Linked DNA regions of Homo sapiens. The protein of the gene in region 3 purifies or fractionates together with the protein of the main gene of each other region. This does not show direct contact. Each region holds a gene or a part of one and is shown on either strand. Other genes may lie near its edges.

Evidence for each region.
Region 1: the proteins of HMGCS1 (region 3) and ACP6 fractionate together in Homo sapiens (co-fractionation; one large-scale study listed by BioGRID). This does not show direct contact.
Region 2: the proteins of HMGCS1 (region 3) and UFM1 fractionate together in Homo sapiens (co-fractionation; one large-scale study listed by BioGRID). This does not show direct contact.

Annotation. Positions count from the first base shown.
Region 1 is NC_000001.11:147,660,412-147,664,068, reverse strand, and holds part of ACP6 (lysophosphatidic acid phosphatase type 6), read left to right. Parts: intron 1-3,657. UniProt on the Homo sapiens protein: Hydrolyzes lysophosphatidic acid (LPA) containing a medium length fatty acid chain to the corresponding monoacylglycerol.
Region 2 is NC_000013.11:38,359,839-38,363,595, forward strand, and holds part of UFM1 (ubiquitin-fold modifier 1), read left to right. Parts: intron 1-202; coding exon of another isoform or gene 203-228; exon of another isoform or gene 229-872; coding exon 873-940; 3' UTR 941-3,757. UniProt on the Homo sapiens protein: Ubiquitin-like modifier which can be covalently attached via an isopeptide bond to lysine residues of substrate proteins as a monomer or a lysine-linked polymer.
Region 3 is NC_000005.10:43,296,370-43,300,026, reverse strand, and holds part of HMGCS1 (hydroxymethylglutaryl-CoA synthase, cytoplasmic), read left to right. Parts: intron 1-1,051; 5' UTR 1,052-1,061; coding exon 1,062-1,509; intron 1,510-1,892; coding exon 1,893-2,018; intron 2,019-2,860; coding exon 2,861-3,025; intron 3,026-3,657. UniProt on the Homo sapiens protein: Catalyzes the condensation of acetyl-CoA with acetoacetyl-CoA to form HMG-CoA, which is converted by HMG-CoA reductase (HMGCR) into mevalonate, a precursor for cholesterol synthesis.

The DNA.
Region 1 (3,657 bases), on a different chromosome or scaffold from region 3:
GATGCCAAGAGAATCTGAGGCTCCCAGTACCATTCTCCTGGGATAGTTCGGGGAGGGTAGAAGATAAATATGACGATATGTGACATAGTAGGTTTCCAAATGTTAGTTTTAAAACTAAACAAAGTAGTAGGAAATTGAGTTAAATTTTTTTTGTTATCAATGTTATAGGAATTCAGATTTAAAAGATAACCATCAAAAGCCAGAGTGGTCAGTGATAGGGAAGTAAGACTTGAGCTATCCTTGAACATTGAAGACAAGGTGATGGGCAGATAGGAACAGGAGTCCCTCCAAGCAAGAGAAGCAAGCTGGAAGAAGATGCAGAAACAGTGGGCAGGTTCTAGGTTGGAGGGGAGGAAAGAGGCAGTGAAGCTGAGTACAGGGGCTGGACAAAGGGGGTAGAAGTCCTTTTTTAAAATTTTTTTAAGAGATGGGGTCTTGCTGTGTTGCCCAGGCTGATCTTGAACTCCTGGCCTCAAGTGATGCTCCCACCTCAGCCTCCCAAAGTGCTAGGATTACAGGTATGAGCCACTGCACTCAGCCACGATGTAGAAGTTCTTGAAGGACAGATGCTTTCCTCTGAGACATTAGGAAAAAGTTACTGATATGATGACACTGGCTTAGCAAGATTAATTAGGTGATTTTGAAACATACAATGCATTATTATTTATTGTAGTCACCATCCTGTACAATAGATCACTAAAGCTTATTCTTCCTGTGTAACTGAAATTTTGTACCCATTGATAAAAATCTCTCTTTCCCCATTTACTGCACCCCCCCACCTCTGATAACCATCACTCTACTCTCTAATTCTGTGACTTTGACTTCTTTAGATTCTACACAGACAAGCATACCTTGAAGATATTGCAGATTCAGGTCTAGACCACCACAATAAAGCAAATATCGCAATAAAGTGAGACCCACAGTTGTTTTTTGTTTCCCAGTGCATATAAAAGTTGTGTTTACACTCTTCTGTATCCTATCATGCAATAGCATGTCTAAAAATGTACATACCTTAATTTAAAAATGTTTTATTCCTAAAAAGTGCTAGTGATTACCTGAGCCTTCAGTGAGTCATGATCTTTTTGCCAGTGGAGGGTCTTGCCTTGATGTTGATGGCTGCTGACTGATCAGGGTAGTAGTTGCTAAAGGTTGGGGTGGCTGTGGCAATTTCTAAAAATAAGACAACAGTAAAGTTTGCCACATTGATAGACTCTTCCTTTCATGAAAGATTTCTCTGTAGCTTATGACACAGTTTAATAGCATTTTACCCACAATAGAACATCTTTTGAAATTGGAGTCAATCTTCTCAAACTCTGCCACTGCTTTATCAATTAAGTTTATGTAATAAATCCATTGTTGTAATTTCAACAGTGTTCACACTATCTTCACCAGGACTAGATTCCCTCTCAAGGAACCACTTCTTTGTAGTAACTTCTCATGCATTCAAGTTTTATCATGAGATTGCAGCAATTCAGTCAGAACTTAAGGTTCCACATCTAATTCTAGTTCTCTTGCTATTTCCATCACATCTGCAGTTACTTCTTCCACGGAAGCCTGAATCTTCAAAGTCATCCATGAGGGTTGGAGTCAAATCTTCCAAACTTCGCTTAATGTTGCTATTTTGACCTCCTCCTTATAAATGTTCTTAATGACATCTAGAATGGTGAATTCTTTCCATAAGGTTTTCAATTTACTTTGCCCAGATTCATCAGAGGAATCACTATCTAGGGCAACAATAGCCTTACAAAATGTATTTCTTAAATAATAAAGACTTGAAAGTCAAAATTACTCCTTGGGCCATGGGCTGCAGAAAGGACATTGTGTTAGCAGGCACAAAAACAATATTAATTTTGTACATCTCCATTAGCGCCTTTGGGTGACTAGGTGCATTGTCAATGAGCAGTAATATTTGGAAAGGAATCAATTTTTTCTTTTGAGCAGTAGGTCTCAACAGTGGGCTTAAAATATTAAGTAGACCATGCTGTAAACAGATGTCCTGCCATGCAGGCTTTGTTGTTCCATTTATACAGCACAGTCAGAGTACATTTAGCATAATTCTTAAGGGCTGTAGGATTTGCAGAATAGTAAATGAGCCTTGGCTTCACCTTAAGGAAACCAGCTGCATTAATCCCTAATGAGAATCAGCCTGTCCTTTGAAGCTTTGAAGCCAGGCATTGACTTTCTCTCTAGCTATGAAAGTCTTAGCTGGGATCTTCTTCCTATATAGGCTGTTTCTTCTGCATTGAATATCTCCATGTTATCAATAAGGTTGTTTCACTTTCTCATTGTTTGTGTGTTCACCAGAGTAGTACTTTTAATTTCCTCCAAGAACTTTTCCTTTGCATTCATAACTTGGCTGTTTGGTGCAAGAGGCATAGGTTTTGGCTTATCTTAGCTTTCTACATGCCTTCCTTACTAAGCTTAATCATTTCTAGCTTTGGATTTAAAGTGAGAAACTTGAAACTTTTCCTTTCACTTAACACTTAGAGGCCATTGTAGGGTTATTAACTGGACTAATTTTAATATTGTTGTGTCTCAGGAAATAAGGAGGCTCAAGGAGAGGGAGAGAGATGGGGGAAATACCAGTCAGCAGAGCACTCAGAAAACACACAACATTTATTGATTAAGTTTGGCATCTTATATGGGGGCGGTTTGTGGCGCTCCCAAATAGTTAAAATAGTAACATCAAAGATCACAGAGTTCAGGATCAGCCTGGGAAACATGGCAAAACCCTGTCTCTCAAAAAAAAAAAATTAGCTGGGCATGATGGTATATGCCTGTAGTCCCAGCTGCTCGGGAGGCTGAGGTGAGAGGATGAGCCAAGGTAATGCCACTGCACTCCAGGAGGCAGACGTTTCAGTGAGCCAAGATCATGCCACTGTACTCCAGCCTGGGCAACAGAGCCAGACCCCATTTCAAAAAGAAAAACAAATCATAAATCATAGATCACCTTGACAGATTTAATAGTAATGAAAAAGTTTGGAATATTATGAGAATTACCAGATTTTACACAGAGACATGAATGAGCACATGCTGTTGGAAAAATGGCACTGATAGACTTGCTCAATGCAGAGTTCTCCAAACCTTCAATTTGTGAAAAATGCAATCTCTGTAAAGAGCAATAAAATGATGTATGCCTATGTTACTAAAAGGTTAACTTTACATATTTTCATCACGTAAAAATGAAAGTATGTGAGCTGATGGATTTTGTTTACATTAGTTAATCATATATCAAATGTAAATATATATGAAAACATCACATTGTACTCCATAAATATATACAATATACAATTATTTGTCAATTAAAAATAAAACAAAATATTTAAATGCAATAAAAATATTTTTTCCAAAAAGATTAATTAGTTGGCTATGGATAGATGGATTGTGCAGGTGAAAGGGAGGAGTTTGTCACAGGCACTAATAAGGTTTACATTCTACAATAAGATAATGGAAGGACCATTGGGAGGGACTTTTCTTCTAGGCAGTGATCAACAGGGCTTGGTGTGGGGATAGTGGATCCACAGGGAGCCAAAGGTTTGAGGTTTGGGGCCTAGGAGAACTGTGGTAACATTGAGAGGGACATAGTAGATTGGGAAGGGGAACTGGTCTATGGGATTAGACTTGTTTTTAAAATTGAAGTATTCACATCTGACTCAA
Region 2 (3,757 bases), on a different chromosome or scaffold from region 3:
AGTAGTCTCATACTTTATAAAAAGAAGTCTAAAACTTTTTTAAAATTAGTTTTATATTTTTAAAATGTAATCTCTTAGGCTTATAATCTAAAGTTTTAAAATTAGGCATGCTTTAATGTAACCTCATTCTAGAGCAGTAGTTATTTTTAAATTATATTCTAAAGTATTTCTTTATTGTAACAAAATTATGTTGTTTTCACAGGCCTTGCAGTTGAAATTCAGCCATAAAGAAAATGAAGTGATTTAAAATTGCAAATTTTTGTTACTTCAGTAGTTGTTAATATATAATTTTATTAAAAAGGTTTATTGAAAATCGTGAGGCACTTTATTGTATGGATGCCTTTAAACTTAGTAGACAAAGGTTTCTTTTTTTCTTAATCGAGAAACTTTCAATATTTTACAGTAGTTTGAATTACTGCTAACTCTAACATACTGCTTGTTTTATTATCTTTAAAAATTGAATGTGCATATCCTTGATATGAAGAAAATCTCATCAGGCAATTGACCCCAAATATGTCAGGGTATCTAAATTTTTGTCACTTGTAGTAATTTACATTTTTTTTCCTGTCCTTAGATATATTATTGTGTATTGAAGGAAGTATTCATGATTAAATTATTCACAGTTACTTGATGAAAGTATTCGTCAGAGTTTTCATGGCTGGTGTTATTTTAAATTTTAAGCGTATGTTGGATTGTGAAGATAGGAGAATAGGAACAAGACTTAAAAAGCTTGGAATTGGGGTCTCATGATGCTTGAGCTTTTGTACCCATTTTACTGTTTACTAAATCATTTATTATATTTAATAATTGTCAGAATATTAAGATAACTTGATTTTTAGATATCTAACTTTATGTTTTGTTTGTTTGTATAGGAAATGTTTTTCTAAAACATGGTTCAGAACTGCGGATTATTCCTAGAGATCGTGTTGGAAGTTGTTAATATCTGCTACTTGGAACATACGATTGCCTTTCAGAATAAATATTGGTATTTTTTGTTGTTGTAAAATTGAAATCAGGCATTTAACATACTATGAAAACACCAGGAGTCAATGATTAATGAAAGGTGACTCATCTGTCCCTTTTTGTTGTCCATACTCTTCCTATGAAGAGGGAATGCGTATGAATTAAGGCTACTACTGTCACAGAAGATCATAGTCTTTGATGCTACCTCACAACACAAACAGGTAGTTCGTTGGGGGCAAATGAATTAGCCAACTGTTAACTGGAAGCTTTTGATAATTTTTTTTTTTAGAACAATTTGGAACATTAAAATTTACTGAATCGTATATATTCATCTGAGATAAAAATATAAAAAGAATTATGGACCCTGGATGGCAATTTGCTTGATAGCATCTGATTTGCAGACTCATAATTTGATTTTTAATTAAATATATAGGTTGTGATGAAGTGAATAGACATATCAGTGAACAGTTAACTATATTAAATTTTTATCATTTACTTTTTTTAAGATTCAGACCTCAGTTATATAAATTTCAGTTTAATATCAACCAAAAAATTAAAATTTTAATCTAACCCTTATGTGTATAAATTGGTGTCCCATACCAGCTTTTAATGGTGGACCTATAGAATCCAGTACTTTTAATGGTGGGAATTTACAGTAGAAGCATCCTTTGCTGAGTTATACATTCCTTTATCAATCTCTTTTGATACAACATTTAAAACAAGTAGCTTCAAGAAACCACTGGTGTTTTGAGGATAGTATTTCTAAATAGCATTCAGGAACAGAGTATTATTGCACAGATCTGAAGATCAAAAAAAAGCTCAAGGAAATACAGATCGGAAGTGCTGATGAGTTATATTTATTGAAAACCCAACTTTTAAGGAAGTGCTAAGATCAGTCACCCATGTGAATAAGAAGCCAGGAAAGGAAAGATGGGGAAGCCCAGATCACCAGGCTTCTATTAAGGAGGAAAGCAACAGAGGAAACAGTGAAGGGGAACAGAAGGGGGTAGCAAAGTGTTACAGAAAAGCGGACTGGATAGACAAAACTGCAGAAGGTGTATGTTGGGGAGAACTGAAAGGGAAAACAAAATACTTGACATAGTCTTAAGTAGAAGAAGGCAGTTAGAGAAAACAAAGTATCTACTGGCCTTGTCAACATACAGACTTCAAAATACCCCTTATGAGAATCCAAAGAATGATGTGTGTAAGGGAAGATTTTATTTGCCCTTCCGGAAGAAATCAGTATCTATGCAAATCTTGAAAGACGAAATCAAAGCCCATTAATGATTCAGAATCAGTGCTTGACCTCCTGTATTCTGAATGGTGAACTCTGGAAGCAGGGATTGTGTCTGGCTCTTTTTAGAGCTGGAAATGTAGTGGCTTTCATTAAATACTTGCTGTAAAGTCTTTCTAAGACCAATTATTATCTTAGCATGTTTCAGTATCTTCTCTATCATAGGCCCTAAGTTCATTGGGGGAAAAAAAATAAGAAGATTCAACAGAATCAGCATTTGAAGTGTACCATTGGTAGTTGTTTATGAAATTACCAGATATTCATAAATGTGACAAATGAACAGCAGGATTATGAATTATCAAAGGAAAAAGTATTTGCTGAGGTGAAAAAATCTGATGTTTGAGGAAGTTTTTATTTTTATTTATTTGTTTTGTTTTTTTTTTTTTGAGGCAGACTCTCTGTCGCCAGGCTTCTCCTGCCTCAGCCTCACGAGTAGCTGGGACTACAGGCATGCACCACCACGCCCAGCTAATTTTTGTATTTTTAGCAGAGACAGGGAGGAAGTTTTTATTTTTATAAACAAAATCTGATGTTCAGAGGCCCCGTTTCTTACAATAAATGTTGAGTCTTAGTTAAGCAGGAATTTATGAACACCCATTTCCTGACTTTTTGCTTTAATTTAGATTTTTCTCCATCCTGTTTCTAGCACAAAAATTTGCCTGCTGTGTTACAAAAATAAATTTATGTTGTCCTGTGCCATAAAGTGATATATTTAATATTTTTATTCTTTGGTTTTGAACATTGTAAGTTCCTAAAAACATTTTATTAAACAAGTAGACATTTTGTTATTAAAAAAATGTGATCTGTAATTTCTTTGTGCAGAATGATTTGAAGTATTGTATTCAGTTTACATGCGTTATTGGTTTATAATTAATATCTAATGAAAATACATGTTGTTATATTGTAAACCATATTGTCTGTTCTTATTATTAGAGCTCTTAATCAGCACACCTTTTGAGTCAGTATATAATACATGTAGTAAAGAAAAAAAGGGCAAAGATGATTAATGACCATAAGTCAGAGAAATTAGTTTATAGTCATCTGCCACAGACATAGTAGTGATGTTTCGTCCAACAACAGACCGCATATATGACCGTGGTCCCATATTACTATATTTTTACTGTGCTTTATCTATGTTTGGATACACAAGTACTTACCATCATTTTACAGTTGTTTACAGTATTAGGTACAGTAACATGCTCTACAGGTTTGTAGCCTAGGAGCAATAGGCCATACCAAATAGCCTAAGTTTGTAGTAGGTGACATCAACTAGGTTTGTACAAGTACATTCTGATGTTCACATAGTGACAAAATTGCCTAAGGAAGCATTTCTCAGAATTTGTTCCTGTGATTCAGTGATACATAACAGTACTTGCAAATGCCTGTCCATTTTACAGACGGAAAAAAAAAAAAAAAAAGTTGAGAAGAAAATGGGGTTATTGTAACTGGCTAGGTTGGTAGGTTCCAAACCTGGGTGATAACAGAGTCGCCTAGGAAATT
Region 3 (3,657 bases):
ACTAGTACTGTAGCTCCAGCAGCTTCAGCAGGAGTGCAGGCTCATGGGATCAGAGAACCACCTTTTCCGCTTTGTTCTTCCAGCCCAGCCAACAAGTTTGTAGCTATTTCCCTGCATTAAAACTCCCCTCTGTTTGAAATATCTATAGTAATTTTTCTTTTCCTGACTAATACAACCTGTTAAAGAAGCTGAAGCTCTGGTAAGTTAAATGCCCAACAATGGTCTTGAGTAGCTAGTGATTTTTGTTGCTATTGGTAAGTAAATCTAGACACTACTTTTTAGTCCCTTTTTTAAAAGAGGACTGGTTTATCTATGATGAATACATGATTGATTGATTGATTGATTGATTGATTTTTACTTTTTCTTTTTTTTTTTTTGAGACGGAGTCTTGCTCTGTCACCCAGGCTGGAGTGCAGTAACATGATCTCTGCTCACTGCAAGCTCCTCCTCCCGGGTTCACGCCATTCTCCTGCCTCAGCCTCCTGAGTAGCTGGGGCTACAGGCATCTGCCACCACGCCCGGCTAATTCTTTTGTATTTTTAGTAGAGACGGGGTTTCACCATGTTAGCCAGGATGGTCTCGATCTCCTGACCTTGTGATCCGCCTGCCTCAGCCTCCCAAAGTGCTGAGATTACAGGCATGAGCCACCACGCCCGGCCTAATTTATTAAAACTTTCGGGTGGTCAGGTAATTCTGATTTGTCAGCCATATTTCTAAATTATCATTGTATTTTATCTTACAGTTCTTTACAATGTAGAAAATCTTATTTGAGTGTTGTTTACCTCTAATAATCATGTTTTAAATCTAGAGATGCCCAATTTTGAATAAAATGGAAGCCTTTCTAAAAGACTATAATTTTAAATGATAATATTCCATTCATATAATAATTGCTACTTCACATGTACACAATTGAGTGCCCTAAATACTAAACTTAAAGAAACTAATACTTCAGGTGATTGCTAAACTCTTAATATCTATTTCTCAATTTCAAAGTTGAAAACCAGCAACTTATAACCTAAAACAATTTTTTTTCTGTTTCTCCTTTCTAAAGCTCTTTCACCATGCCTGGATCACTTCCTTTGAATGCAGAAGCTTGCTGGCCAAAAGATGTGGGAATTGTTGCCCTTGAGATCTATTTTCCTTCTCAATATGTTGATCAAGCAGAGTTGGAAAAATATGATGGTGTAGATGCTGGAAAGTATACCATTGGCTTGGGCCAGGCCAAGATGGGCTTCTGCACAGATAGAGAAGATATTAACTCTCTTTGCATGACTGTGGTTCAGAATCTTATGGAGAGAAATAACCTTTCCTATGATTGCATTGGGCGGCTGGAAGTTGGAACAGAGACAATCATCGACAAATCAAAGTCTGTGAAGACTAATTTGATGCAGCTGTTTGAAGAGTCTGGGAATACAGATATAGAAGGAATCGACACAACTAATGCATGCTATGGAGGCACAGCTGCTGTCTTCAATGCTGTTAACTGGATTGAGTCCAGCTCTTGGGATGGTATGTTACATGCCTATTCCCCGCCGTCCCCCAAAATTTTTTTCTAAGGTTCAATAGACCCAGATGACACTTTAATTAATGCAATACGCAAACTTTTGTAATTTGTCCTTGTTTGGATATATTAAGAAAGATATTTTACCTGTCTGTCATTATCCGAATTGTGAATTGGTTATCTTATCTTGTAGGACAAATGGTCTATTCAAAATTTAGTCAGATGGATGACAGAGCCTTGGCAGATGAATTTTAAAAAAAAATTAGAGCATTTTCTTTCTTTATCAAAGAAGGGAAAAGCATATTCTGGGGAAAATATAACAGACTTCAGTTTCCATGTTTGGTTATAGTGTTGAATTCCTTCTTGTGAAATAACAAAAAATATTTTTCAGGACGGTATGCCCTGGTAGTTGCAGGAGATATTGCTGTATATGCCACAGGAAATGCTAGACCTACAGGTGGAGTTGGAGCAGTAGCTCTGCTAATTGGGCCAAATGCTCCTTTAATTTTTGAACGAGGTAAGTGCTTGGGAAAGCATTTTTGTTTTTTTTAGCACAATATGCTGAGAAATTTGAAAATAGAAGTAGGAGCTGTCGCTTACTTAATGGTCATTAAATGCAGGTACTACTTGCTAAGAGCTTTATGTGTGTTATCATATTTATGTTTTTTTTTCTTTTTTTTTTTTTTTGAGACCGAGTTTCACTCTTGTTGCCCAAGCTGGAGTGCAATGGCACGATCTCGGCTCACTGCAACCTCTGCCCCCAGGTTCAAGTGATTCTCCTGCCTCAGCCTCCTGAGTAGCTGGGATTGCAGGCACACACCACCATGCCTGGCTAATTTTTTGTATTTTTAGTAACAGGGTTTCACCATGTTAGCCAGGCTGGCATCGAATTCCTGACCTCAGGTGATCCGCCCCCCTCAACCTCCCAAAGTGCTGGGATTACAGGCGTAAGCCACCATGCCTGGCCTGTATTTAATCTTCATAGCAGTTTTATGAGGTAGGTGGTGTCATCCCCACTTTACAGAGAAGTGGGTTAATGTAGGGTTCAAATGATAAATAGTAACTTGCTGATAGTCACTGGCAATTTTAATTTGTCTTCAGTGTAGTAGAGTAACTGTGAACTGTTAGAGTTATGAAACTGACATGGAAAGTTGTATACCAAAGGAGTCTTAGGACTGTCCATGGATACTGTTATGTATCATTTCACTTATATTGGCTTCAGCTTGCGATTTCTCTACTGTAAGTGGTGAGAATTGATCAGATAGTTAAGGAAGGTCCTTAGATAATGCAGTATACTTATTAACATACAGACATCAAGAAGCAGAAATATATAGACATCTTCCTTTTTGGTTCTAATAGGGCTTCGTGGGACACATATGCAACATGCCTATGATTTTTACAAGCCTGATATGCTATCTGAATATCCTATAGTAGATGGAAAACTCTCCATACAGTGCTACCTCAGTGCATTAGACCGCTGCTATTCTGTCTACTGCAAAAAGATCCATGCCCAGTGGCAGAAAGGTAAGTTTTACCCATTTTCCTTGGTTTTGGTATGAGTTGAGAGCAGTCTAATGTACTAGGTATCTTTGGTAGGCAACTACTTTGTGGGCATTCTTCATTTAATATCCTTTTACCATTAATTCCTCATTCACCAAACAACATTTTCCCATAGTTTCTGGGAAAGTGTAATTTACTAGAAGAGGTAAACTTTGGAACTGAGGTGTATCTCTGCAAAAATATTTAGGTCGGTTTACCCCTTGTAAGAAAATCAAAGTGGAGAAAAGAAGGTAAGTTGAATTTTGTTCATCTTTTGAGAGAGGTATTTTAACAAGGTTTTGGACTACAGCTGTGATTCAGGGAAAGCTAATGAAAATGAATTACTAAAGTGATCTTACCCCAAAAATAATCTTTTTGCACTTGACCTGTGAATTTGTATTTGTTTTTTTACTGTTATCATTAATCTGGAAATTTGTTGAGGCACTGAAAGGACAGTATTTGAGTTAATGCTATCATAACACATTATTACATAAAGTATACTTTTTCTGTAGTCCAACTTTGCTTTTTAGAGGTTATGAGAAGGGGTTAAAAATCATATTCAATGACAAATATCAGTGAATTTAGTCGCTCTGGATAAGAAGCATTCTTGCAGTATA